7 linked regions of the Homo sapiens genome follow. The protein of the gene in region 1 purifies or fractionates together with the protein of each later gene. This does not show direct contact. Each region holds a gene or a part of one and is shown in the gene's direction. Other genes may lie near its edges. The genes, in order: CAPZA1, WASHC4, RUFY1, ARHGAP1, MCFD2, PLS1 and ATF2.

Evidence for each region.
Region 2: the proteins of CAPZA1 (region 1) and WASHC4 purify together in Homo sapiens (affinity purification with mass spectrometry; 2 studies listed by BioGRID and IntAct, with this or other methods). This does not show direct contact.
Region 3: the proteins of CAPZA1 (region 1) and RUFY1 purify together in Homo sapiens (affinity purification with mass spectrometry; 2 studies listed by BioGRID, with this or other methods). This does not show direct contact.
Region 4: the proteins of CAPZA1 (region 1) and ARHGAP1 fractionate together in Homo sapiens (co-fractionation; one large-scale study listed by BioGRID). This does not show direct contact.
Region 5: the proteins of CAPZA1 (region 1) and MCFD2 fractionate together in Homo sapiens (co-fractionation; one large-scale study listed by BioGRID). This does not show direct contact.
Region 6: the proteins of CAPZA1 (region 1) and PLS1 purify together in Homo sapiens (affinity purification with mass spectrometry; one large-scale study listed by BioGRID and IntAct). This does not show direct contact.
Region 7: the proteins of CAPZA1 (region 1) and ATF2 purify together in Homo sapiens (co-immunoprecipitation; one large-scale study listed by IntAct). This does not show direct contact.

Annotation. Positions count from the first base shown.
Region 1 is NC_000001.11:112,668,332-112,671,831, forward strand, and holds the end of CAPZA1 (F-actin-capping protein subunit alpha-1), read left to right. Parts: intron 1-1,211; coding exon 1,212-1,274; intron 1,275-1,564; coding exon of another isoform or gene 1,565-1,660; coding exon 1,661-1,801; 3' UTR 1,802-3,285; downstream 3,286-3,500. UniProt on the Homo sapiens protein: F-actin-capping proteins bind in a Ca(2+)-independent manner to the fast growing ends of actin filaments (barbed end) thereby blocking the exchange of subunits at these ends.
Region 2 is NC_000012.12:105,159,731-105,163,230, forward strand, and holds part of WASHC4 (WASH complex subunit 4), read left to right. Parts: intron 1-270; coding exon 271-418; intron 419-3,018; coding exon 3,019-3,115; intron 3,116-3,500. UniProt on the Homo sapiens protein: Acts as a component of the WASH core complex that functions as a nucleation-promoting factor (NPF) at the surface of endosomes, where it recruits and activates the Arp2/3 complex to induce actin polymerization, playing a key role in the fission of tubules that serve as transport intermediates during endosome sorting.
Region 3 is NC_000005.10:179,599,054-179,602,553, forward strand, and holds part of RUFY1 (RUN and FYVE domain-containing protein 1), read left to right. Parts: intron 1-214; exon of another isoform or gene 215-336; intron 337-431; exon of another isoform or gene 432-582; intron 583-1,019; exon of another isoform or gene 1,020-1,045; intron 1,046-2,838; coding exon 2,839-2,933; intron 2,934-3,010; exon of another isoform or gene 3,011-3,213; intron 3,214-3,323; exon of another isoform or gene 3,324-3,500. UniProt on the Homo sapiens protein: Activating adapter involved in cargo sorting from early/recycling endosomes. Regulates retrieval of proteins from endosomes to the trans-Golgi network through interaction with the dynein-dynactin complex.
Region 4 is NC_000011.10:46,690,620-46,694,119, reverse strand, and holds part of ARHGAP1 (rho GTPase-activating protein 1), read left to right. Parts: intron 1-3,500. UniProt on the Homo sapiens protein: GTPase activator for the Rho, Rac and Cdc42 proteins, converting them to the putatively inactive GDP-bound state. Cdc42 seems to be the preferred substrate.
Region 5 is NC_000002.12:46,909,307-46,912,806, reverse strand, and holds part of MCFD2 (multiple coagulation factor deficiency protein 2 isoform A precursor), read left to right. Parts: intron 1-1,933; exon of another isoform or gene 1,934-2,027; intron 2,028-3,500. UniProt on the Homo sapiens protein: The MCFD2-LMAN1 complex forms a specific cargo receptor for the ER-to-Golgi transport of selected proteins. Plays a role in the secretion of coagulation factors.
Region 6 is NC_000003.12:142,686,893-142,690,392, forward strand, and holds part of PLS1 (plastin-1), read left to right. Parts: intron 1-2,725; coding exon 2,726-2,921; intron 2,922-3,500. UniProt on the Homo sapiens protein: Actin-bundling protein. In the inner ear, it is required for stereocilia formation. Mediates liquid packing of actin filaments that is necessary for stereocilia to grow to their proper dimensions.
Region 7 is NC_000002.12:175,119,704-175,123,203, reverse strand, and holds part of ATF2 (cyclic AMP-dependent transcription factor ATF-2), read left to right. Parts: intron 1-1,663; coding exon 1,664-1,760; intron 1,761-3,500. UniProt on the Homo sapiens protein: Transcriptional activator which regulates the transcription of various genes, including those involved in anti-apoptosis, cell growth, and DNA damage response.

The DNA of each region.
Region 1 (3,500 bases):
TAATGATAACAAACCCATTACTTGTTAATAAGTAACATCTTTGTGAATATATTTTCCAAATCAAAAGAAAAAAATAGTGGGAAGAATGGCATTAGTCTGTGTCTTCACAAATTGTGTATTAAAAGATGGCGGACTTTATTGTGATATTAGTTGTTTTTTGCTTGTTTGTTTGTTTTTTTGAGATGAAGTTTCGCTCTTGTTGCCCAGGCTGGAGCACTGTCTTGGCTCACTGCAACCACCACCTCCCAGGTTCAAGTGATTCTCCTGCCTCAGGCTCCCGAGTAGCTGGGATTACAGGTGTCTGCCACCATGCCCAGCTAATTTTTGTATTTTTAGTAGAGACAGGGTTTCACCATGTTGACCAGGCTTGTCTTGAACTCCTGACCTCACCTGCCTCGGCCTCCCAAAGTGCTGGGATTACAGACATGAGCCACTGTACCTGGCCTCTGCTTCATACCTTTCATTATCCCTGAAAGTGATAAAGTCATCACACATCATGTAGTTTCTAGGAAATTACATCATACACACATTACAGAGTGAAAGTGAAACAGGCAAATAACTTTGTGTTAGTATTATTATGAAAGTAGAAAATAGTTTTGACCTCATAGTCTGTCTTAGGACTGCAGCTCTAGATATTAAATCCTACCCTCTTCCCTTTAATTCTGTTGTACTTAATGGTAACAGGAAGAGGGAGATTCATTTCATTTTAGACTTGAACCACGTGGTACAAAATGTGATTGGCTAGTTTAACATCATAAGTGGCAAATAAAGGCATATGTGAGCTTATGTATATGACTGATGTGTCCAAGGGCATTGTTCATACCATTTTAAACCAGAAATATTTTCAAGGCATCAAGGTTTCAAGACTTGATGATGTCTTTTGGGCGTACTGTGGTAGAGTGGAAACAGCATGGGTTTTTTTGGTGAAGACCTAATTTCAGATCCCATCTTTATCATTCAAAAGCTGTATAATTCTGGTCAAGTTGCTTAAGAGGATTCTGTTTTCTCATCTGCAAAATGGGGGTTATGATTATAACATAGTGTCTTCCATAGAGTTGTTGTGAGAATCAAAGGAGGGTAGTGGGCATGGGAACACTTGGAAAACTAGAAATTGTCATACAAATGTTAGTTAAGATGGACTTACTTTCAGGATCTTACTGCTTACACATTAAAAAAAAATCTGATTTTCCCCTTCTTCCTTCCTTCATTAGAATGAAGCCCAAACTGCCAAGGAGTTTATTAAAATCATAGAGAATGCAGAAAATGAGTATCAGGTAAGAAGATTTGGAGTTAATTTTCCTAGATCTACTATCTTATTATTTCGCTGTTAGCATATTTTGTTAGGCCTTGTGTCCTTTAATGTAAATATACATGCTCTTCAGTTTTACTAAATGTGGGAGACTTTGCAGACCTTCCAAGTTGGCATTCTGCTTACAGTCAGGGTTTGAGGATTGCTTGGGACTGTAGCCCTCATTTTAGAAATAATATAGGTGAACTTCTTGACCTACTTCAGAGATTGGAGAGGAGCTCATTGAAAATAATATATCCTGTCTATCCTTCACAGGGGACTCAAGCATATCCATTGACTATAGCATTACTTTTCTGTTCACAACCAGCCCCATTTCTGTTCAAGCAACTCATCTTCAATTATCTATTGCAGACAGCAATTAGTGAAAACTATCAAACAATGTCAGATACCACATTCAAGGCCTTGCGCCGGCAGCTTCCAGTTACCCGCACCAAAATCGACTGGAACAAGATACTCAGCTACAAGATTGGCAAAGAAATGCAGAATGCTTAAAGGCTGAATGTAGGATTCTTCAGTATGTGGAAAGACAAGGATTCAACGTGTGGTCATATGATAAATAAGTGATTTATAAACAAGAGTGATATTTTGCTAGGGCTTTCAAAGTTAACCGGTTTTCTAGCCTCATGGAATACTGTTGAACCTATAGCGTTGTCTTGATTCTTTTGTGTTCTCTGCCTTGTAATTTTCTGTTACTGCTATATCTACGTGTAAATCTTTTTTTCTTTTTTTTTTTTTTTTTTTGGTTAATTCTGCCACATTTAATGTTGGTGAGAGAGTGATCTATCCTAATGACATTTTACTGTTTAAAAAAGTTTCCTAGCCATGAAGCCCTGCTACTGATTTAGACAAGGTATTATGGTCATTACTTTGTACCCCTATCCTTCCAAGCACTTCTGGTACTTCAGTCGTTTTTACTGATCCACCAACACCTAAAGAGGCTATGCTACAGTCTCTAGCTAAATGGAAGACACATTCATCCTTCTCCCTCTGACTGCTTTGATCATCATTTATTGCATCTCATAACTAATTTTCTAAAGTTTGGATTGGGACTTTTCAGGTCCTTTTTGGAGGGCAAAGGAAGTGCCAGCTTCTCTGGGGAACTTGTTTTTAAATCCAAAGACTTGAACCACATTCCCTGCACATGAACATGTTTGCTTTTATCCCTTCTCTCATTGTCTCCTTCCCATCTTAGTACCATTGTAGTTATAAACATCTGCATTTTTTAGAAGCATTTTACCCATTTATTTTTTTAAACATTCAAGAACTGCTGACGTACTGTGGATGTAGAGTATAAAACTTGAAAAATGCAGATGTTGAAGGAATAATAGGTATCTTGTGCTTTAATACTTTATGGCAGGATTGTACTATAAGCAAATGAATTAAACAGCTATGTAAATCATAAAGAAAAACTAAAAATGAACCAAAGTGAAAGGATAACTTCCAGGCAGTATCTTTCTATTGTAACCTGTTATTTAAGGAAATACTAGTGATTTCTTCTAAATAGGATGTAAAACTTCTTTCAAATTACTCTTCCTCAGTCCTGCCTGCCAAGAACTCAAGTGTAACTGTGATAAAATAACCTTTCCCAGGTATATTGGCAGGTATGTGTGTAATCTCAGAATACACAGGTGACATAGATATGATATGACAACTGGTAATGGTGGATTCATTTACATTGTTTACACTTCTATGACCAGGCCTTAAGGGAAGGTCAGTTTTTTAAAAAACCAAGTAGTGTCTTCCTACCTATCTCCAGATACATGTCAAAAAAAGAAAGGTGTTTGTGCTTCCGTTTTGTTTCTGCTCAGTAATATAGTCAAGCAAGTTTGTTCCAGGTGACCCATTGAGCTGTGTATGCATTTTTGTTTATTTCAATAAAATATATTTGTATTATTTGTCCTTCATACTATCCATCCATACCACACTATCTTCTGTATCAGGTAGTCTAATAGAAATATACCTGTTTTGTTCTAAAATTGTCTGAGTCTCTCCTTTTTGATTCATCGCTTCAGCCTTGGTTCTCAAGGTAAGATATTCAGCTGTATTTGATCTTATGTTGAGAATGTTTAGGGTTTCTAAAATTGGTTTCTACCTTCAACTATTTATAGACTCTGAATATCCACAGATTTGCAAAGAACAGCTTTTTAAAGCGTGAGCAATGTCTATGGATCATACTGCTCTTCACTCAAAG
Region 2 (3,500 bases), on another chromosome or scaffold:
GGCCTCACTGTGGGAAGAAGAAATACAGAACTATTATTTTAAGTCCCAAGATGTTCTAATAGTCTATTTTTGGGACTAAATTTACTAATATTGATCAGTTTTCTGTCCATGAGAAAATAAGTTTATTCTGAACTCCAAGAAAATTTTCTTAGAAGTGTCTTACAGTGTTTCCTGCTTTTCAAGTGTTCTTATCTAAACTATTGAGAGATGGATTTTTTTCAAAGCCACGCTTCTTTTGAGAAAGGAACCAAATAATTTTTTGCTTTTTAGGCATTTGGATTCAGTCCTCAGTGATCACACACGAAATTCTGCCGAAGGCACAGAATATTTCAAAATGCTTGTAGACGTTTTTGCTCCAGAATTTCGAAGGCCAAAGAATATACATCTCCGAAATTTCTATATAATTGTTCCCCCTCTGGTGAGTATTTCCAGAACCTAAAATGAATTTTTTTTTTAAAAAGAGTATGCACAAATAGATCTGGTTTCTTTGTAACACGAAATGCATACAGACTACACTATTAATTTCCTGGTTGCATATAAAACTAAATGTGATCTCAGTGAATGTGACATAGAATTTTTTATTTGTTAGCCATGCTGAAGGACACTTTCTTATTGTTAAATTTTTTTTTTCTTCTGAGATGGGGTCTTGCCCTGTCACCCAGGCTGGAGTGCAGTGGTGTGATCATGGCTTACTCAGGCTTGACCTCCTGGGCTCAAGCCAGCCCCCTGCCTCAGCCTCCCTAGTAGCTGGGACTACAGGTGTGCACCACCATGCCTAATTTTGGTAATTTGTTTTCTTTTTTAAGATATGGGGTCTCACTGTGTAGCCTAAGCTGGTCTTGAACTCCTGGGCTCAAGCAGTCCTCTTGCCTTGGCCTCCCAAAGTGCTGAGATTACAGGCATGAGCCACCACGTATGGCCTAAGATAGATTCTTATTTTTTTTAAATAATTACTGGAGAAATTTGAGTATTTTTTAAGTTATATGAGTATATGCCATAGAATCTTTGGGCAGAATTATTAATATATAATCATTTTAAGTGCTTAATGTAGAATAACTTTAGCTGTTATTATAGTTTTTTCTAACACATTTCTTAAAGCATATTGTTTCAAGATAACTTCTTTCTATTCAGTAGTAAATACTAACATCTGGACTAAATTTTTAATGCTTCTTAGAGTATGTAACGTGTTCTTGCTCTAACTCTGTAGTTGCTATCTAAAAATAGTTCAAGTTATCAAAAATTGCATTATAAAAACAGCTGTTCCATTAGGGAAAATGGAGTTAAGAATTTTTGAGAGGTATATATTAGTAATAAGAGTTGTTTTGGCTTAAGGTTCCTATAAAGTTTAAAAAAAATTGTAAGTAGATAGCTTTAAAATCTAAATATCACCCAGCAGATGAAGCTCTTTATTATATTTAATTTTGATCAAGAATAGTGACTTTTCATATTGCTGCCCAAGTTGTTAACACATCTTCTTACATATTAAAACCATTATTACCTATTGAAAGTAGCTAATAGCCTATAAACAGCTTTTTTCCATGAATTTTGTTTCTTTTATACATTTGTTAATTTTCTATCATAATTGTATTTTAACTATGATATAGCAAAAAATGTTCATATTCATCTTGTAAGAATCTTTTCATCTTAAGATAGTGTCAAACTGGAGGGAGAGTGTCATATTTGGTAATACTATAGTTAACTTGGGGTGAGTTCTCACCATATTTTTTTAATTTGAAGGGCAATGTACTCAAACCATTGTAGACAGCAGTTAACCCATTGGTAAGCTTAGGAAAAAGTCTGGAGTTTTACAAGGCAGTTGTCAGAATTCGCTTAGTGATGGAGAAAACAAAGTGGATTAAAAGCACTACAAAGAAGTATAGAATACTGTTCTTGTACTTGTGTTTGTAGTGTAGTTCCAGAAAAAAGACAAGCATAAATGAGATTTCTAAAAAAGATTGAATTAATGATTGATAAAAAATTCACAAACAGGTGATTAATTGCTGAATAAGTTTCACAGTCAAAAAAATGAAACTTGGTTTTGTTTCCAGCGTAGGCTATTATAGTACTTAGCACACTGTATATCATAATTAGTTTTTAAACACTTCTGCATTTACTCTTCTAGAGCTGTGCTATCCATGTATAGTCACATGTGGCTACTTAAGTTAATTAAAATTTCATAAAATTAAAATCATAAGGCAGGGCGAAAAAAATAAAAATACCTTTTTAAAAATTAAAAATTCAGCTTGTCAGTCACACTAGCCTCATTTCAAGTGCTCAGTGGCCGCTTGTGATTAGTGGCTTACTGTATGTACTGGATGGTGCAGATACACATTTCTGTCCCTGCCAACAGTGTTGCTCTAGACTGTGAACTCTAGATAGAAATCATTTGTTTAATCATAAGTACTTAATAATGCCTGGTATATTGTAAGCTTCAGTAAATCTTTGTTGAATAAAAGATATGATTAGATAAGTCATTTTGGAAGAGCTGAATTTTCAAGAGACGTACTGTTTTGAGGATTCACACTTAAGAACATGAAAAGAAATAGTATTTTCGAATGAATTAGGTAGGTGTAAGTAAGGACTGTCTTGCATATGTTTTTAAGAGTACTTGTGCTTTGAAATAAAGCAGGCCTACTTTGCTAACTCCAGCATTCACTTAATATATGACTTTGGGTGAGATAATAAATCTCCCAAGCCTCGGTGTCCTTCTCTGTAAAATGTGCATAATATTTTATAATGAGATATACAAGGCACTGTTCTTGGGCTAAGTAGTGATTGAGGGAGTGCCCATATTTAAAGGACTTGGAAAGGAGATCCATGAAGATACACTTGTATAGATTGTATCTTCACCAAGAGGGTACCTAAGGCAAATGTTTCAGATGAAAAGGACAGGAATCTAGATTCTATTCTATTCTATTTATAGTGATTCTATTTATAATTTTTAAAATGTCTGTTATAGGAATTCTGAAGATTTTCTTAGCAAAATTGTTTTTCTAACATGTTGTTACATCTTTTTAGACCCTCAACTTTGTAGAGCATTCCATTAGTTGCAAGGAAAAATTAAATAAAAAAAATAAAATTGGAGCTGCCTTTACTGATGATGGCTTTGCCATGGGTAAGCTTAATGGAATTGTTTTTCCATTAATTTTATATTGACCTTGTAATGGATTCTTAGAAACATCTGCTTGAGAATAGGTCTATATGTTCTTTATAGATTTTTCTTTCTTTTTTCTTTTTTATTTTTTTGAGACAGAGTCTCGTCTCGCTCTGTTGCCCAGGCTGGAGTGCAGTGGCACGATCACTGCAAGCTCCGCCTCCTGGGTTCACACCATTCTCCTGCCTCAGCCTCCCGAGTAGCTGGGACTACAGGCACTCGCCACCACACCTGCCTAATTTTTTTTGCATTTTTAGTAGAGACGGGGTTTCACTGTGTTAGCCAGGATGGTCTCGATCTCCTGACCTCGTGATCTGCCCGCCGCAGCCTCCCAAAGTGCTGGGAT
Region 3 (3,500 bases), on another chromosome or scaffold:
GAACAGTGTCCTCACCCGTGTGCAAGGGGCCTGGGGAGGGAGCGACCGGTGAGCAGAGGCTCCAGTGAGTTATGCCCTGCAAAGCACCTCTTGGGTGGAGACTGCAGGAGCAGACAGCAGTGTGAGGAGCAAAGAGGCGGCCTCAGGCGGCAGGCAGGAGGAAGCCCTTCATGGGCCCTGGGAGCCAGGGGAAGGAACGTGGGTTTTATTTTACCAGAGTGGGCAGCTGGTGGAGGGACAGGATCCGTTCTGTTTGCGGATGGTCATTGGCTCCTGTGTGGAGAGTGGGTGGTAGGCTCGCAGGAGAGGAAGCTGGGAGGAACCAGTAAACATCTCCTACCACATGCCAGCCTCACCTCAGCCACTGTGCCCAGGGTCGGGTCATCCCTGGGAAGCAGACCGACCCCAGCCCTCCACTTCCCCTACATCACCTCAGTTCCATGGAGGACCCTCTCACTTGGAGGCATGGCCTGGATGCTGTGGGCTTCAGAGGGCGAGAGAAGTGGGGTCCAGCAGGCCTTCACTGTCTGGCTGTGGAACTGGACCTCCCAGGAAACTCCGAGGCCGTGTGGAACATTTGCCCTAATGTAAAATCATCGGCTGTTTTCCCAGAGGGGAGGAGGCTCTGCGATCCTGGATGGAGCTGACTGCAGCCTGGGGCGCTCTGGGGGGCTCCTCCCACGTGGGGATGGCGTGCCCTCTTCTCAGGCCCCTGCGCTGCCGAGCGCTGCAGGAAAACTGAGCCCAAAGCAGACCTCCCCTCGGCACCTGCCCCGGAGGGGCCTTCAGGGCCAGGGTGGCTTCTGGACCTGGATTTTGTTGTGTTGAACGTGGTAATGGACACACTGCACGATTCGAGCGAGTCAGGAAAGGCCCTTTTGATTTCCATTGGAAAGTGCCTGGAGTTGTTGGGGAAGGGAGAGCTTCCTCAAGAGCCAGATCAGGCTTGGAGAGTGGAAGGGAGGAAGTGGAGGGCAGAAGAGGACTTTCAGAAAGTCCCGCCTCATCACGGGGCATACCTCCTTTATTCTGCTTCAGAATGCTTCTGTCAAAAGATTCGAATTACACAATTACAGCCCGCCCCAACAATAGGAACAAAACAATGTCTAATAACCCCAGTTAAGCCACAGCTTTGTGCTTTGCAAGCCTGTGCATGGAAGCAGAAGCTACGGCACAGGGTGTGCAGAGAGCCACCCCGCCACTCGGGCCCGAGCTCCACCGCTGCTCCCAGTGGTCCCAGAAACCCCAGTTACTTTCTGGGTCTCCATCCTGGCCTTAACAGACTGGCTCAAGGTGCACTGGCCCCAGGTGTCAGTGCCGTTGCCCCCTGGGGAACTCCCTCCGTGCAGGGCTCCTCACATGGTCTAGCCAGCCTCCAAGTGGTCTAGCCATGAAATGAGGTCCCAGGTCACCCCCTTCATCATCCTTGACCAGTGCTTTCCAAAAAAGCAGCTTTTTCAGAATTGAACAGGAAACCACCTTTCAAACTAGTCTTTGCTGATGCAAGGTTCGTGTGATTTTGTGTACAGTTCTTCTATAGATTTTTTGAGATAGCAATCTGTTTTGTAAAATGTTTATCTTTTAAAAAGAAGCTCAAATAGGCAAAGCCTCATTTGTCCTATGATGGTAACTTTTTTTTTTTTTTTTTTTTTTTTTTTTTTGAGACGGAGTCTTGCTCTGTTGCCCAGGCTGGAGTGCAGTGGTGTGATCTCGGCTCACTGCAACCTCCGCCTCCCCAGTTCAAGCGATTCTCCTGCCTCAGCCTCCCGAGTAGTTGGGATTGCAGGCATGTGCCACCATGCCCTGCTAATTTTTGTATTTTTAACTAAAGGAGGGGTTTTGCCATGTTGGCCAGGCTGGTCTTGAATGCCTGACCTCAGGTGATCCGCCCACCTCAGCCTCCCAGTGCTGGGATTACAGGTGTGAGCCACTGCGCCCAGCTGAGGGTAACTATTTTTAATGTGGCTGATGAATGTAACTATCCTGTCCCATGTCTCTGTCCCCAGCTGCAGAGCCCTCGTCGAGTGCTTGCCTTTTAGCTGCCCAGTGTCAAGAGTAAGCTAGCAAGAAATAATCTTGAATGACATTAATACAGGACTGCATTTTGCTCTTTTTTTTGGTTTTGTTTTGTTTGAGATGGAGTCTTGCTCTGTCGCCCAGGCTGGAGTACAGTAGCACCATCTCGGCTCACTGCAACCTCCGCCTCCCGGGTTCAAGCAGTTCTCTTGCCTCAGCCTCCCAAGTAGCTGGGATTACAGGTGCCTGCCACCACACCCAGCTAATTTCTGTATTTTTAGTGGAGACAGGGTTGCACCATGTTGGCCGGGTTGGCCTCAAACTCCTGACCTCAGGTGATCCACCTGTCTTGGCCTCCCAAAGTGCTGGAAGTATAGGCATAAGCCACTGTGCCTGGCCACCTTTTGCTCTTGAAAAACATTCTGATCTGCTTGTTGCTCTGGTTGCTGAATCTTTTTTTTTTTTTTAAAGGCCAGTGCAGTGGCTCACGCCTGTAATCCCAGCACTTTGGGAGGCCGAGGCGGGCAGATCACGAGGTCAGGAGTTTGAGACCATCCTGGCCAACATGGTGAAACCCCGTCTCTACTGAAAATACAAAAATTAGCAGGGCATGGTGGCGGGCACCTGTAGTCCCAGCTACTTGGGAGGCTGAGGCAGGAGAATCGCTTGAACCCAGGAGGCGGAGGTTGCAGTGAGCCAAGATCGTGCCACTGCACTCCAGCCTGGCAACAGAGCAAGACCCTGTCTCAAAAAAAAAAAAAAAAAAAAAAAAAAGGACCGTGTAATCCTCTGTCCAGCATCTGGTTGGTTTGTTCATTTTAGGAGTTGCGGGAGCTTCAGGACGAGAAGGCAGAGCTGCAGAAGATCTGCGAGGAGCAGGAACAAGCCCTCCAGGAAATGGGCCTGCACCTCAGCCAGTAAGAACCCCACTCCCCTTGTCTGCCACTGCAGGCACACCAGGCTACCCACCACATCCCTCAGGCCCCAAACCTACCTCCTTTTGGCGAACGGAGGGTGGGCCATTTAGGAGCTCAGTCCGCCGTTCACGGATGAGCTCTCAGGAAGCCCGGCCTCAGAGGGGCCCAGCACTGATCTCTGCTACCCACATGGGGTGTCAGCGAGCTCTTAGTTAATTCAGGAAGCACGTTCATTCCTAGTGACCAGGACACTCCTATTCCTTAGCTTCATATCCAGGGCCTGAGGGAACAGATGGGCAATGAGAGGATCGCTTGGTCAGCCTACAGTCAGGCCAGAGGGAGCAGGGCTGGTTTGGGAACGGAAGCCTGGCACAGTAGAGGTGCACTCACCCGCCTTGCACAGCACAGCCCCCTTCCTTTCGGGGAACTGGCCACTGCATCCGCCAGAGTCTGTCTGTCTCTGCTGCAGGTGCTGATGGGGTGCAGACCCTGGTAGTTCTGCTCCCCTCTGACTTGACAGCTCTCCTCCTTGGTGTCCCAGTCTAGATAGGTTGCTGTGGACGCCTG
Region 4 (3,500 bases), on another chromosome or scaffold:
TGTGCCTCCCTGATTGCTGAGAGGAGGCTGGATTGGCATCACCAGGCACTCATTTGGTGAGACCGTGGAGATGTCCGGGAGAAGCCCTTGTAGGAAGGGAGGGTGGGTTATAGCCTCAGCTCTCCCTGCCGGGAATAGTTGTCATGCCCCAGGGTCAGATTTGGCTCAGTCCCAGTGGGTTCTTTCCAGTGGTGTGCTGGTAAATGGCTCTCTGGAGAGGGGGAAAAAGGCCATGATTTGTAGCATTTGCAGTTTCTGCCTCCCAGCTCTCTAGCTACCAACATGATGTCAACTGGCTTGCAAAATTCCTGACAGTTGAACAGCTTAACAAATGTGTGAGCTGGCTGTAGCACATGACTGGCTCCATCAGCCCAGCCCTACCTCCCAGGTCCCAGGCCTGCTGGTCCGGTTGTGGGTGGGGCTGGTTTGAGGGGGCCCAGAATGCCTGGGGAGACCTGTTGGTGATTAACTCCAGGGCCACCCTGGAGTTAGGACCAGCCTGGGCAACATAGTGAAACCCTGTCTCTACAAAAATAATAACAATAAATTAGCCAGGTGTGGTAGCCTGTGCCTGTAGTCCTAGCTACTTGGGAGGCTGAGGTGGGAGGATCCTTTCAGTCCAGGAGTTGGAGGCTGCAGTGAGCTATGATTGAACCACTGCACTCCAGCCTGGGTGATAGAGCAAGATCCTGGCTCAAAGAAAAAAAAAAAAGATTACAGTCTAGTGAAGTGGTTCTTAAAACTGGTCACAGTCCACTTTGCAACTATGAAAGGTATCCCCAGGATAGGGGGGATCTCTTTGACTGAAAAAAAAAAAAAGTGCAGCCAGGTGCGGTGGCTCACACCTAGTAATCCCAGCACTTTGGGAAGCCAAGGCTGGTGGATCACGAGGTCAGGAGTTCGAGACCAGCCTGATGAACACGGAGAAACCCCGTCTCTACTAAAAATACAAAATTAGCTGGGGTTAAGGCCAGGCGCGGTGGCTCATCCCTATAATCCCAGCATTTTGGGAGGCCGAGGCGGGCGGATCATGAGGTCAGGAGATCGAGACCATCCTGGCTAACACAGTGAAACCCCGTCTCTACTAAAAATACAAAAAATTTTCTGGGCGTGGTGGCGGGCGCCTGTAGTCCCAGCTACTCAGGAGCCTGAGGCAGGAGAATAGCGTGAACCCGGGAGGCGGAGCTTGCAGTGAGCGGAGATCGTGCCACTGCACTCCAGCCTGGGCAACAGAGCGAGACGCCGTCTCAAAAAAAAAAAAAAAATTAGCTGGGTGTGGTGGTGCATGCCTGTAATCCCAGCTACTCAGGAGGCTGAGGCAGGAGAATCGTTTGAACCCAGGAGGTAGAGGTTGCAGTGAGCTGAGATCACGCCACTTCACTTCAGCCTGAGCGACAGAGCGAGACTGTCTCAAAAAAAAAAAGTGCACATGCTTGTAATATTTGTCATATAACATCATGGAGGTGCTGTGTCTGCTGAGCACATTGGTGGAGCCCTGGTTCAGAACCCAAAGCTTCCCACTTACAAAGTGCTGTGGCCAGCTGAGAGGAGACACCACAGGCCTCCAGCCCTCCCCCCAACAGCTTCCCTAACCAGTTGCTACCTCTTATATTTTAGACCCAGGGGCCTCACAGACTTTCTGCCCTGGCTGAATCCTCAAATCTGCCAGCCAATGAGGCCTGCCTTGCTGCTGGTGCAGATGTGAGGTGCGGGGACTCATGGGCTGGAAGGAAAGATCCTTTTGGTAGCCCCCATTGTCCTCGAGCATTTCCCCCAAATCCTGGTTATTTCCTCGCTTAGAAGGAGGTAGGCAGATGAGGCCCCCTCTTCCCAGGCTGGTGGTAGGCATCTCTGGGGTTTCTGAAGCTCCAGACTAGTGAGACTGGGCTTGCCAGTCTAACCCTTTGTCCCTGGCCCCTGCCAGTCTGCTTTTCCTTCCACTGTCAGAGCCAGTGGGAAGTGAATCAGAGCAGGCACATAGCCCCAGAGCCACCCCCAGCTGGCCTCCGGGATCTCAGCACCTCAGGATCTAGGCTAGGGTACGAAAGAGAGCAGGTACCACCTGGTCCTTCAAAACAGACCTGCCGGGATGGAGCTGCACCTCCTCTGCAGACAAGCTGGTAGAGGATTCTCTACTTGCAAATCTGGAGACGTTCTGTCCTGAGCTTTGGGAAACTCACTATCTGAAGCAGTCTGACCCATAACCAAAGCATAATCAAGAACAAACACAGAGGCCAGGTGCTGTGGCTCATGCCTATAATCCCAATACTTTGGGAGGCTGAGGCGTGCAGATCATCTGAGGTCAGGAGTTGGAGACCAGCCTGGCTAACATGGTGAAACCCTGTCTCTACTAAAATACAAAAATTAAGGCTGGGCATGGTGGCTCACACCTGTAATCATAGCATTTTGGGAGGCTGAGGCGAGCAGATCACCTGAGGTCGGGAGTTTGAGACCAGCCTGACAAACATGGTGAAACCCCGTCTCTACTAAAAATACAAAAATTAGCTGGGTGTGGTGGGACATGCCTGTAGTCCTAGCTACTCAGGATGCTGGGGCAGGAGAATCACTTGAACCCGGGACGCAAAGGTTGCAGTGAGCCGAGATCGCGCCATTGCACTCCAGCCTGGGTAACGAGCAAAACTCCATCTCAAAAAAAAAAAAAAAAAAATTAGCCTGGTGTGCTGGCACCTGCCTGTAGTCCCTGCTACTTGGGAGGCTGAGGCAGGAGAATCTCTTGAACTTAGGAGGTGGTGGTTGCAGTGAGCCCAGATCACTCCACAGCACTCCAGCCTGGATGATAGAGACTCCATCTCAGAAAAAAAAGAAGAACAAACACAGAAATATAACTAGAACCAGGCATCCCATAGTTTAATGGTGACCTGCGATTTTGTGCAGGCTACCAAAACGTATTGAATACCTGCCACATGCCAGACACTGGACCAGTACTGGAGACTGTAGGTGCCATGGTACGCAACTGTAATCCCAGCTACTGGAAAGCTGAGGCAGGAGTTCAAGACTAGCCTGGGCAACATAACAAGATTCTGTCTCAAAAAATTGTTTTTAATTAAGCAGGTGGGATGGCATGTGCCTGTAGTCCTAGCTACTCAGGACATGGGAGGCTAAAGCAGGAGGATTGTTTGAGCCCAGGAGTTCAAGGCTGCAGTGAGCTACAGTTATGCCACTGCACTTCAGCCTGGGTGACAGAGCAAGACCCTGTCTCTTAAAAAAAAAAAAATCACAGCTTGCCAGGAGTAAACAAAGAAAAAGAACAAACAAAGACAATGAGACACAGCCTCTGTCTTTGAGCTGCTCACAAGCCTGTCAGGGAGACAGGTACATAAACAATTCTACAGGAGAGTGAAGGGTCAGGACAGTGATGGGTGACGGTTTATGCTGGGAGCCATGAAAAGGGGCAGCTAACCTGTCTGGGGAGAGAGGGCGAGGACACAGGATTCCAGGCGGCGATTATGCCTGCATTGAGTCTTAAGGGTTGGTGGGGG
Region 5 (3,500 bases), on another chromosome or scaffold:
AGGCACTGTGCCTGATACTGGGAATGTGGATTCAGTCCAAGTCCTCTTAAAGCCCATCCAGCAAGGGGCACTGACAAGTAATCAGGCAGTTTTTCAAGAATTCATTCACACACAAGAAAACAAAAGAAAAAAAAGAATTAATTTGCAGCTGTCATCAGCTGTGGACGGGAGCCTTCTGAAGGGAAGCACTTGGGAGCCTGCAGGACGAATACCTACACCAGACTTGGAATTGAAAAGACCTCACTGGAGAAAGAGACATTTGATGTAAATGAGTCTGAAAGGCTTGGGAGGAGCTTGATTCCCTTCTCTGATCCTTCCTGTCCCAGAACTCTAAGATGTGTGGTCAGAACAAGTTGTTCTGCTATGGCCTAGGCAGTCACTGCTAGGAGTAACCTGAAACCTTGTTTTGTGGTACCAGGTACAGTGGCAGTGGCCTTGTCAGGGTCTGGACACGTTTAAAAAATTTTTTTGAGACAGTCTCACTCTCTTGCCCAGGCTGGAGTGCAGTGGTGTGATCTTGGCTCACTGCAATCTCTGCCTCCCGGGTTCAAGCAATTCTTGTGCCTCAGCCTCCCAAATAGCTGGGATTACAGGTGCACGCCACCATGCCCAGCAAATTTTTTTTTGTATTTTTAGTAGAGACGCATTTTGCCACATTGGCCAGGCTGGTCTCAAACTCCTGACCTCAAGTGATCCACTTGCCTCGGCCTCCCGAAGTGTTGGGATCATAGATGTGAGCCACTGTCCCTGGCCAAGGTCTGGGCACTTTTATTTGGTAAAATTGGAAGTGTAGTTTCTGACTGTTTCTGAATTATTTTGTGGAGATAAGAATTAACCGGAAACTCCTTTTGTATCCGATCCATATAGTATTGGGACAAAATTATGGGATAGATTACATTGAATACATATTCATAAAAAATGGTAGCAGATCTCGGCTCACTGCAGGCTCCACCTCCGGGTTCATGCCATTCTCCTGCCGCAGCCTCCCAAGTAGCTGGGACTACAGGTGCCCGCCACCACGCCTGGCTAATTTTTATTTTTGTATTTTTAGTAGAAACGGGATTTCACCGTGTTAGCCAGGGTGGTCTCGATCTCCTGACCTCGTGATCTGCCCGCCTCGGCCTCCCAAAGTGCTGGGATTACAGGCACGAGCCACCATGCCGGCTGAAAATCACAATTCTAATCTCATGTCTCAAGATAATCTTTGTTATTAGTTTGTGTAGGAAATACACATTTTTATTTTACAAAAGTGTATTATTCTTTATTGCTTTTTTGCAGCCTGTTCTTTTTCATTCAATATATATTGAGCATTCTTTCCTATTAAGTATGACATATTGCTTTTTTTTTTTTTTAAACTACAGATATAAAAGGTCTGAGGTGGCCGGGCACGGTGGCTCATGCCTGTAACCCCAGCACTTTGGGAGGCCGAGGCGGGTGGATCACCTGAGGTCTGGAGTTCGAGATCAGCCTGGCCAAGATGGTGAAACCCTGTCTCTACTAAAAACACAAAAATTAGCTGGACGTGGTGACATGCACCTGTAATCCCAGCTACTCGGGAGGCTGAGGCAGGAGAATTGCTTGAACCTGGGAAGCGGAGGTTGCAGTGAGCCAAGATTGCGCCACTGCACTCCAGCCTGGCGAAAGAACAAGACTCTGTCTCAAAAAAATAAAAATTAAAAAATAAAAGGTCTGAGACAGATTGCATTTTGATGTCACTGTTTAGAAGTAGACTAGATTCTAGGTGCTTTTTAGCACCCTGGAAGTTTCTTCCTTTTTTTGGTGGTGGAGGACAGGGTCTCACTCTGTTACCCAGGCTGGAGTGTACTTCAGCCTTGAACTCCTGGGCTCAAGCAATCTTCCTATCTCAGCCTCCTGAGTGGCTGGGACTATAGGGGTGCACTGCTACGCTCAGCTAATTTTTTATTTTTTGTAGAGATGGGGGTCTGACTGTGTTGTCTAGGCTGATCTCAAACTCCTGGCCTCAAGTGATCCTCCTGCCTCAGCCTCCCAAAGTGCTGGGATTACAGGTATGAACCACCATGCCTGGCCTATCCTGGAAGTTAGACATCCCAGTGACTATTGTCCCCTTTAAGGAGGGGGCCATGGGAAGCAATACTGGTAATGGGAAAAACGGATTTGGGAAATTTTTCTAAGTGTTGTAGGGTGGCATACTCACACTTTCAGGGTTCTGCCCTGAGAGCCTTTTAGGATGGGTAAGAGGGACTATAACACCTCTACCTCTCAGCCCCAGGCACAAAGACAGCTACAGCTTCTGAGCTGAGCCCTGTGTGTAGCATGTAAAGGGGATGACCAGTGCCTTATGGTTTGTCTTTACCACTGCTGGTTTGGGGCTGTGGACTACAATTGACCTGTTAGAAATCCCTGGCCTTGTTATCTAGCAGAATCTGTTTTGCCTGTTGGGAAGTGAGTGTTCGGTCAGGTCTTTTGTTTTTGTATGTAGGTCACCTGGCTGTCCTTCACCTTCCTTTTTGAGGTCAGTCTGTCAGCCCTAGGACAGACCAAGACTTTCCATTGAATCAACAATTATTAAAGGCCTGCCTGACCCTTGGCGGGTAATACTGGTGGGGTTAAAGTTCTCCCTGCCCTCCAAGAGCTTGCTCTGTAGCTGACTGTCATCTTATTGACCACAATTCCAAGTGTGGCCAAACCCTGGGAGTTCCTGATGGCATCCTGATTTCTCTGTAACTTTTCTTTCCAGTGCCCGCTCACTGTAGTTACTTGCCACTGTTACCACCCAGGAGGTACAGAACCTTGTCCGCTGCCGCAGACCTTGATCTGACCCGCCTTACCACTCCCTTGGCTACCATGCTCCTGCCTCTAGTCTTGCTTTTGCCACTTCATGCCTTCCCCACTGTGCTGCCAGATGAGTCATTCTGAAACCAAGCTCTGATCTCACCTCCCATTCATGAATTGTAAGTGACTCTCCTGTCTTTCTCTGCAGGAGATGTCAAGCCCTGGCCTAGTGTGCAAAGCCCTGTCCAGTACAGCCTGTCTAGGCCTTGGAGCCACCTCTGTCCTGTCTGCTTCCTACCCTCTAGGCTGCAGCCCAGCTGAACTACTTGTAGTTTCTTTCCCGCTTGTGGGCACCTGCCACTCTGCTCCCACCATTCCTGTGGTCCTTCAGTCCCTGCATATCTGTCCAGGCCCAGCTGAAGTGTCACCAGCTCTATCAGCCTTCTCTGATTTTCCTCCACTCGGAGGAGATTTCTTCCCCTGAACTCCTAGAGGGTTTTCGCTTTCTCTGATAATCTGATATAACTTGCTGGCTGCCTTTCCTGGTGCTCTTGATAGAAAATATTTCTTTCAGGGGACCATAACTTCTGGGAGGCAAGAATAATCTTCCAGTCCCTTCAAGCTTTCACGTGTTGCTTGGCACTCTGCAGGCACTTCAGGAAACCTCGTGAGCCTTCCCCTGCCATTTGAGTGACTTGGAGTGCCCAGGGTCATCCCACAGTCTCAAAGCAGAGCTGGCATTGGGC
Region 6 (3,500 bases), on another chromosome or scaffold:
GTGCTCTTTTGACTGTCAGCATATGCCAGGAAAGGAAGCAACAACCTGTTGTTAGATTTTTAAGCAATCAATTATCAGTTTTACCAGCTTATATTTAGAAATCTACAAAATAAAAATAGATATTCATGGTGTAGGAAGGACTGATACAGATTCTGACCTACCAAGCATACTTCCTAGGAATCTCATTCTTTTAGCATAAGTTATAAATACCAGGGATGGTTCTATCTAAATCAGGATGTCCAGTCTTTTGGCTTCCCTGGGCCACATTAGAAGAAGAATTGTCTTGGGCCACACATAAAATACACTAACACTAACAATAGCTGATGAGCTAAAAAAAAAAAAAAGGTGCAAAAAAATCTAGTGTTTTAAGAAAGTTTACAAATTTGTGTTGGGCCACATTCAAAGCTGTCCTGGGCCGCATGTGACCCACCGGCCGTGGGTTGGACAAACTTGAATTCTAAACATTAAAATTTGGTCAGATAATAGACTGTATGAAAATATATCACGTACTTAAAGTGCGGCGTCCGTAACATTTGGTTTTAAAGGCAACTTGAGTCATTACTAATTAATTATATCTCACATTATTATAATGACATATTTCAGAAACACAGTATTGCAACGCTCTGTAAAATGTGCAAATCATTTTAAGTAAAAAAATTAGGAACTTAAACTTATGGAAAATTTTGAATATATTCAAGAGAACAGACTTAGTATACTAAACTATCAGGTACTCATCCCTCAGTTTCAACATCTGCCAATTCATGGTCAATCTTATCTCGTTTATTCCCTATTTCTCTCCTCTCCTATATTATTTTGAAGCAAATCCTAGACATTACTTCATGGATAAATATTTCAATATATATTTCTAAAAGACAAAGACACTTTTAAAATAAAACCACAATACCTTATCATACCTTAAAAAAATTACAACAATCTGTAACATCATCAAAATATCTAGTCAATGTTGACATTTCCACTTGCCTCATAAATGCCATTTTTTTCATAGTTTATTTGAATTAGGATCTAAAATAAGGTCCACATGTTGTCTTTATTTGTTTGTTTTTTTTTTTTTTTAGATGGAGTCTTGCTCTGTCGCCCAGGCTGGAGTGCAGTGACACAATCTTGGCTCATGGCAACCTCCGCCTCCTGGGCTCAAGTGATTCTCCTACCTCCACTTCCTGAGTAGCTGGGATTACAGGTGCACACCACCACACCTGGTTAATTTTTGTGTTTTTAGTAGAGACGGGGTTTCACCATGTTGGCTAGGCTGGTATCAAACTCCTGACCTCAAGTGATCCGCCTGCCTCTGCCTCCCAAAGTGCTGGGATTACAGGCATGAGCCACCACGTCCAGCCACATATTGTCATTTTTTGATGTCTACAATGGTAACTTTTCTTTGTTAATTTAATAATCTGTTGCTTTCTCTGATTTCATTTATATGATTAATTATTTTGCAACTCTGGTGCACAGAATTAGGTAGGTTATCTTTGGTCATGATATACTCATATGGGTCTGTGCATACCCATTTTTAAATTTATTTTTGTGTGTGGTTGTTTGTTTTGAAATTGTAACAAGCCTCATGAACTCTCAATCTAACAGGAAAACTAAAACTTTGACGTGACATTTTCTGTACAGTTCTTCCCTATCCCACCTCGGTTTTCGCCCAGTGTGGTAACCACAGTCTTGAATCTTGTGTTCATTGTTGTTCTGCTTTTCTTTTTATGTAGTTTCCCTTCATCCAAATGTATCCCTTACAAAATTAAATTCTTCATTTTACTTTTTAACTTCCTTTAAAGTTTATCATGTTATACTTAAATTTCTAGTACTTCTTTTTGGCCTTGTATCTCTAAGAGTTACCCATATTGGATGTCATTGTGTGAATATACAAATTCATTCATCTACTCTCCTGTTTATAGGTATTTGGGTTGTTTCATTTGTTTCCAGGGTTTTGCAATTGTGAAAGGTGCTTTTCCCTATGATTTTAATTTTTAAAATATGTATTTCAACTTGTTTTTCATCAAGAAGAGCCTTCTGGAAATGTCACTCAGTGTACAGTGGGTATGATAACTATGCCTGTTATCCAGAGGGCACTCTACTAGCTGGTCTTGAATAAGTTATCTATAGTGCAACCAGTAGGAGCTTACTGATACAATATTTGAGGATTTTGCTGAGTATTTTAGCAAAAAGGGTAAAATATAACTCAGTTATCCCAGCAAGGAAATTCAGAGACTTTTTTCCTTTTAACTTAAAAGGCACGGGGGCTGGGCTTAGTGGCTCACGGCTATAATCCCAGCACTTTGGGAGGCCGAGGTGGGCGGATCAGGAGTTCGAAACCAGCCTGGCCAACATGGCAAAACCCTGTCTTTACTAAAAATACAAAAATTAGCTGGGCATAGTGGCATGTGTCTGTAATCCCAGCTACTCAGGGGCTGAGGGAGGAGAATCACTTGAACCTAAGAGGCAGAGGTTGCAGTGAGCCAAGATCACGCCACTGCACTCCAGCCTGGGGAACAGAGCAAGACTCTGTCTCTAAATACATAAATAAATAAATAAATAAATAAATAAAGGAATGGGTAAGTTGACTTGGAATTACTACACATTTTGATCTTATTTTGAGTTATTATTTGATATATTTGTGGAAAAGTAATTGCTTATAAACATGTATACCAATAAAAATTATGCCAATTAAAACTTCAATTGTAACCATTTTTGTTTTATTGTTTAGGAGACAAATGACCTGAAGCGTGCTGGACTCATGCTTCAAGAAGCAGATAAACTGGGCTGCAAACAGTTTGTTACTCCTGCAGATGTGGTTTCAGGCAATCCTAAACTTAATTTAGCTTTTGTAGCTAATTTGTTTAACACATACCCGTGCCTGCACAAGCCGAATAATAATGACATCGATATGAATTTACTGGAAGGTGCGTTCTTTCTGCCTTTAATTGACTTGCTATATTTATCTTCTTATGGTATTGTCTTACTTCACTGTCAGAGATAGGGGATTGTGGTGGGAAATGCAATTTAGTGTGTGTAGGTATGTGTATCTATTGAAAAATTAAAATTATGGAAGGTGGTTGCTGGTTTTGGTTAAAAGAGAATGCTGGGGTAAATCTTTTATTTCTCCATAAGAGGTTAGTGAAAACTATCATACATTTAAAATATTCTCATAAATGATCACATAACAGCTCTACCACCAACATGGACAATGAATTATCTATTAGAATAAAATAATTATTTGTAGGTGTTTTTCTCCTTTGAAAGGTCCAGTTTGACTCTAGTATTGTTCTCTTTTTAAGGTTTTTAGTGTACATGAAAAAAATTACAGTGTTCGTTATTTGTCTTTTGTGTGGTCTATCGTTATCTGTCTCATAATATATAATACTTTCCTGTTTTGCTTCATGAAATGCAGATTTGACCCCTCCTAATGTAGGTACTGTATTTAGTACTTTTCTATACTCTATAAATATATTCATTCTGAATGTTCTTTTTATTAGTACCAT
Region 7 (3,500 bases), on another chromosome or scaffold:
CAAAAGTACCACTGTTTCTTATTTCTCCAAAATTGGGGGAGATTCTTATAATGATAAAGTAATAGGAAGACAGTACCTGGGTGGGGAAAAGTTTGATTGTGGTCCTACTGCCTATAGTTGCTGCCCAGTAAATGTCTGAAGAGTGAATGAATATGTCAAGTAGTGGAAGTGTTGTTGCATCTGAACACTCTCCTTCAGTGGTAATACAGGCAGGTTCTGAAGAGAGGTTATAAAATAATAGTTTTCTGTTGGCATGTGAAGTAATCCAAAGACTAAGTGATAAAATGTAGCAAGATTAAATTGAAGTTGAATTCATCTTAATGAACAATGGTTTAGGGTCTTTTTTAGCCCCCTCAGATTGATCTTTAAGATTCATCTATTTTATTGTAATGAATTCATTCTTTCAGTTAGCATTTATTGAGTACTTAACTATATGCTAAGTTTGGGGGACCACGGTAGGAGCTCAGCCTACTTAAAAGGACAGACATATGAAAATATGATAGGTGCTATAACCAAGGCATTGTGCCGCACACATGAGATGATTTTCACCTCTACAGGCAGACGGATAGTGGACTGGGCCAAAGATGTTAAAATGTTAAAAATGTTTCATTCTTTTACATTGTGTTTAAGGTAACCCTAAAGCTACTATTATTAGTTGCATGAAAGGATGTAGTGAATTGGGTAGGGGAAGGAGACCACAAGAAATGGAATTCATTTTGATGGTTTGGGCAAACCAAGTTCAAGTATATATATTTTAACATCCTCACTTGTAAGGTTATAAAGAGTGAATTGAGATCTGTTAACTTAGCATTTTAAAATTATTGCTCTGAAATAACAGCTCCCTGTTTTCAGTTATAAATGTTGCTTAATGAGCATCTTCAAAAATGTTGATGTTCAGACATTGGAGATAATGCATTTATTATGTTGTAATCATAAATGTTACCTTTGGCATGCAAAACTTATCCAAGTTAGAGGTAGGAAAAAATATGATGGATAACTTTAAAAATAAAATGTTCTAAAAACAACTTTGCTCCATTTTTATGTAAGAACTCTCATGAAAAAATTATTTTGGCTACTTTAAATTTTTTTATTTTAAAATGAGCTGTTTTGTTATTGTATCGGTTGCTATTTCTTTGCTGGATTAAAACAAAGGCATTCTTTTTTATGTGGTAACATAAAAATCAGATTTATTTCTAAATTTTGTCCAGGCGTAATACTTTTATAAGAAAATTCTCTTTTAAAAAGTGGTAAGTAACCTTAAGTCTAGGTAAATATTAATACTACAGTACTTTCTTGAAAAGTCATTGAACCATGGAGTATAGTTTCTACTATGATAAGACAAATTAATGGTGGTCTATTTTTAGTATCCATAAGAAATTTATATAAAGTTTCTTTGCCTCCAATTTTATTTTTAAATGCTCTCAAATGAGTTATGTGACCTAGCAATATATCAGTATTGCTTATTCTTGAGTAATAGGTTTCTCTGTGATTGTTTGCAATCTAGTGTGCTATCTACTAACAATAACGGATTCTTTTATAGTTTAAAAACTGCTATTTCACTGTTAATGGTGGTTTTACATGTTGTGGAAATTAATTTCCTAATCATTTTACTTATTTGATCAAATTGAAAATCTTAACTATATTTTAAAACTTTTTGCCACAGCGTTTTACCAACGAGGATCATTTGGCTGTCCATAAACATAAACATGAGATGACACTGAAATTTGGTCCAGCACGTAATGACAGTGTCATTGTGGCTGGTTAGTATATGCTTTTATTAATAGCTTGTATACATATTTCACCTGGAATGTGCACAATTTTTGTGTATTCTCTGTAAATAATATAGTCTGGTGATATTCCAATGACTTCATTATAGTAAATGTTGGCAACATGTATTTTACCCATTACATTTTCATGTTTCCTTCTGACTATTCATTTCATTTTTTTGTGTGGTTTTCAAATTTATATTCCAATGTCGATTTTGTGGAAGTTCATTAGAACTCTGGGAACATTCATACCATCTACAAATTTTACATTTAACTAATAATTGAACTAACATGGTATTTAGTCAGCATTTCTTTTAGCTGTCTTGTACAACTGACTTACAAGGCTGTGTGAAGATAGAAAATGATCAAGCTTCTCCCATTGGAGAAAGAACAGTGAGCAGACTTGTTCATTAGAGTTGTTTATATTTCTTTTCAGACTAAACATTTGTATTAGTAAAATATTCTCAGTAAGGAGGCTCTAAATTCAGTCAATGCAGTTTTTGTGTGTTGACACTATGAACGTACAGTATCACCTAAGCAGATGATTATTTTTCACTGTATGTGAAAAGAAAAACCCAGTTCATACATTGGTTGATTGTCATTCCATGCTGTATTAGCTGCCTTTTTTTGGTATTTAAATATATACACACACACATCTATGTATATATACATATATGTCATGTATAATTTTGCTACTTTTTTGTATATTTTATAAGTATTATGATAAAACAAAACTATATAAATTTCAGATCCTTTGTGTCATCACAGATTTACATATCATAAATATTCAGATTAACTCCAGATTTTTCTTTTCTCTTGTAAAGCTTGTTATATGTCATATAAGTCTGGAATTACACCCAAATACTGTAATACTTTTAAATTATTAATCAGTATAGAGACCAAATTGTTCTATGCAGTGTTTTGGATAGATAATAAAGCAAATATTCGGTGGTTTTCCCTCTACTTACAGTATTGAAATTTTTGTAATGAAGAAATTGAAGGTAACAAAGTTAATTTATCGAAAACAATATACGTAGGAAAAATGTAGGGGAACTTCCAACATATCCTAACTAAGTTCCATAAGTAACTTAGAGATATGTTACTTATACAGAAGAGTGAGATAATGCTTTTTTTTTTTTGGAGTATTTTACATTAGACATTAAGAGCTAGAACCAAAGGAACCAAACAAGCAAAATAGTAACAACCTCGAAAGTTCACTCTCCTAGGCATGAAGCTCTTTGTTTCTCTGAAACTTTCTGCCTTAGCACAATCTCTGTCTGTGTGTAACTCTTTAACTCAAATATGTTTTGAAATTGGTTTCTAGAAATTACTTTCCTGTCTGATCACATTTAATGCAGTAGAAAAATAGAGCACATTCAAACACAGTACTTGACCTTTTTTTTCACTAACATGTTGAGATGAATAGGTTAACATTACTATGCAAATAAAATGCATGATGTGTGTGGTATATTTTTGGTGATCAGTAGCCATATGCAATGTGCATGTTAAATGATTGTGCCTATGTTGACTTTTCTGAAGTCTGATGGTTCCAGTAATCATTGATAAAAGTGACTTATGCTTATGTATTTTATTTTTTTAAGATTTTCCCCTCCCTTTAATGTAAGTTAAGAGCCTTCTGATGAACTTAGATAGACAAACCCTTTGGGTGTGAACAGAAGAGTCACATTTAGATTTGACCTACTAATTTAGTCATGATGGACTTAAGCTAATACA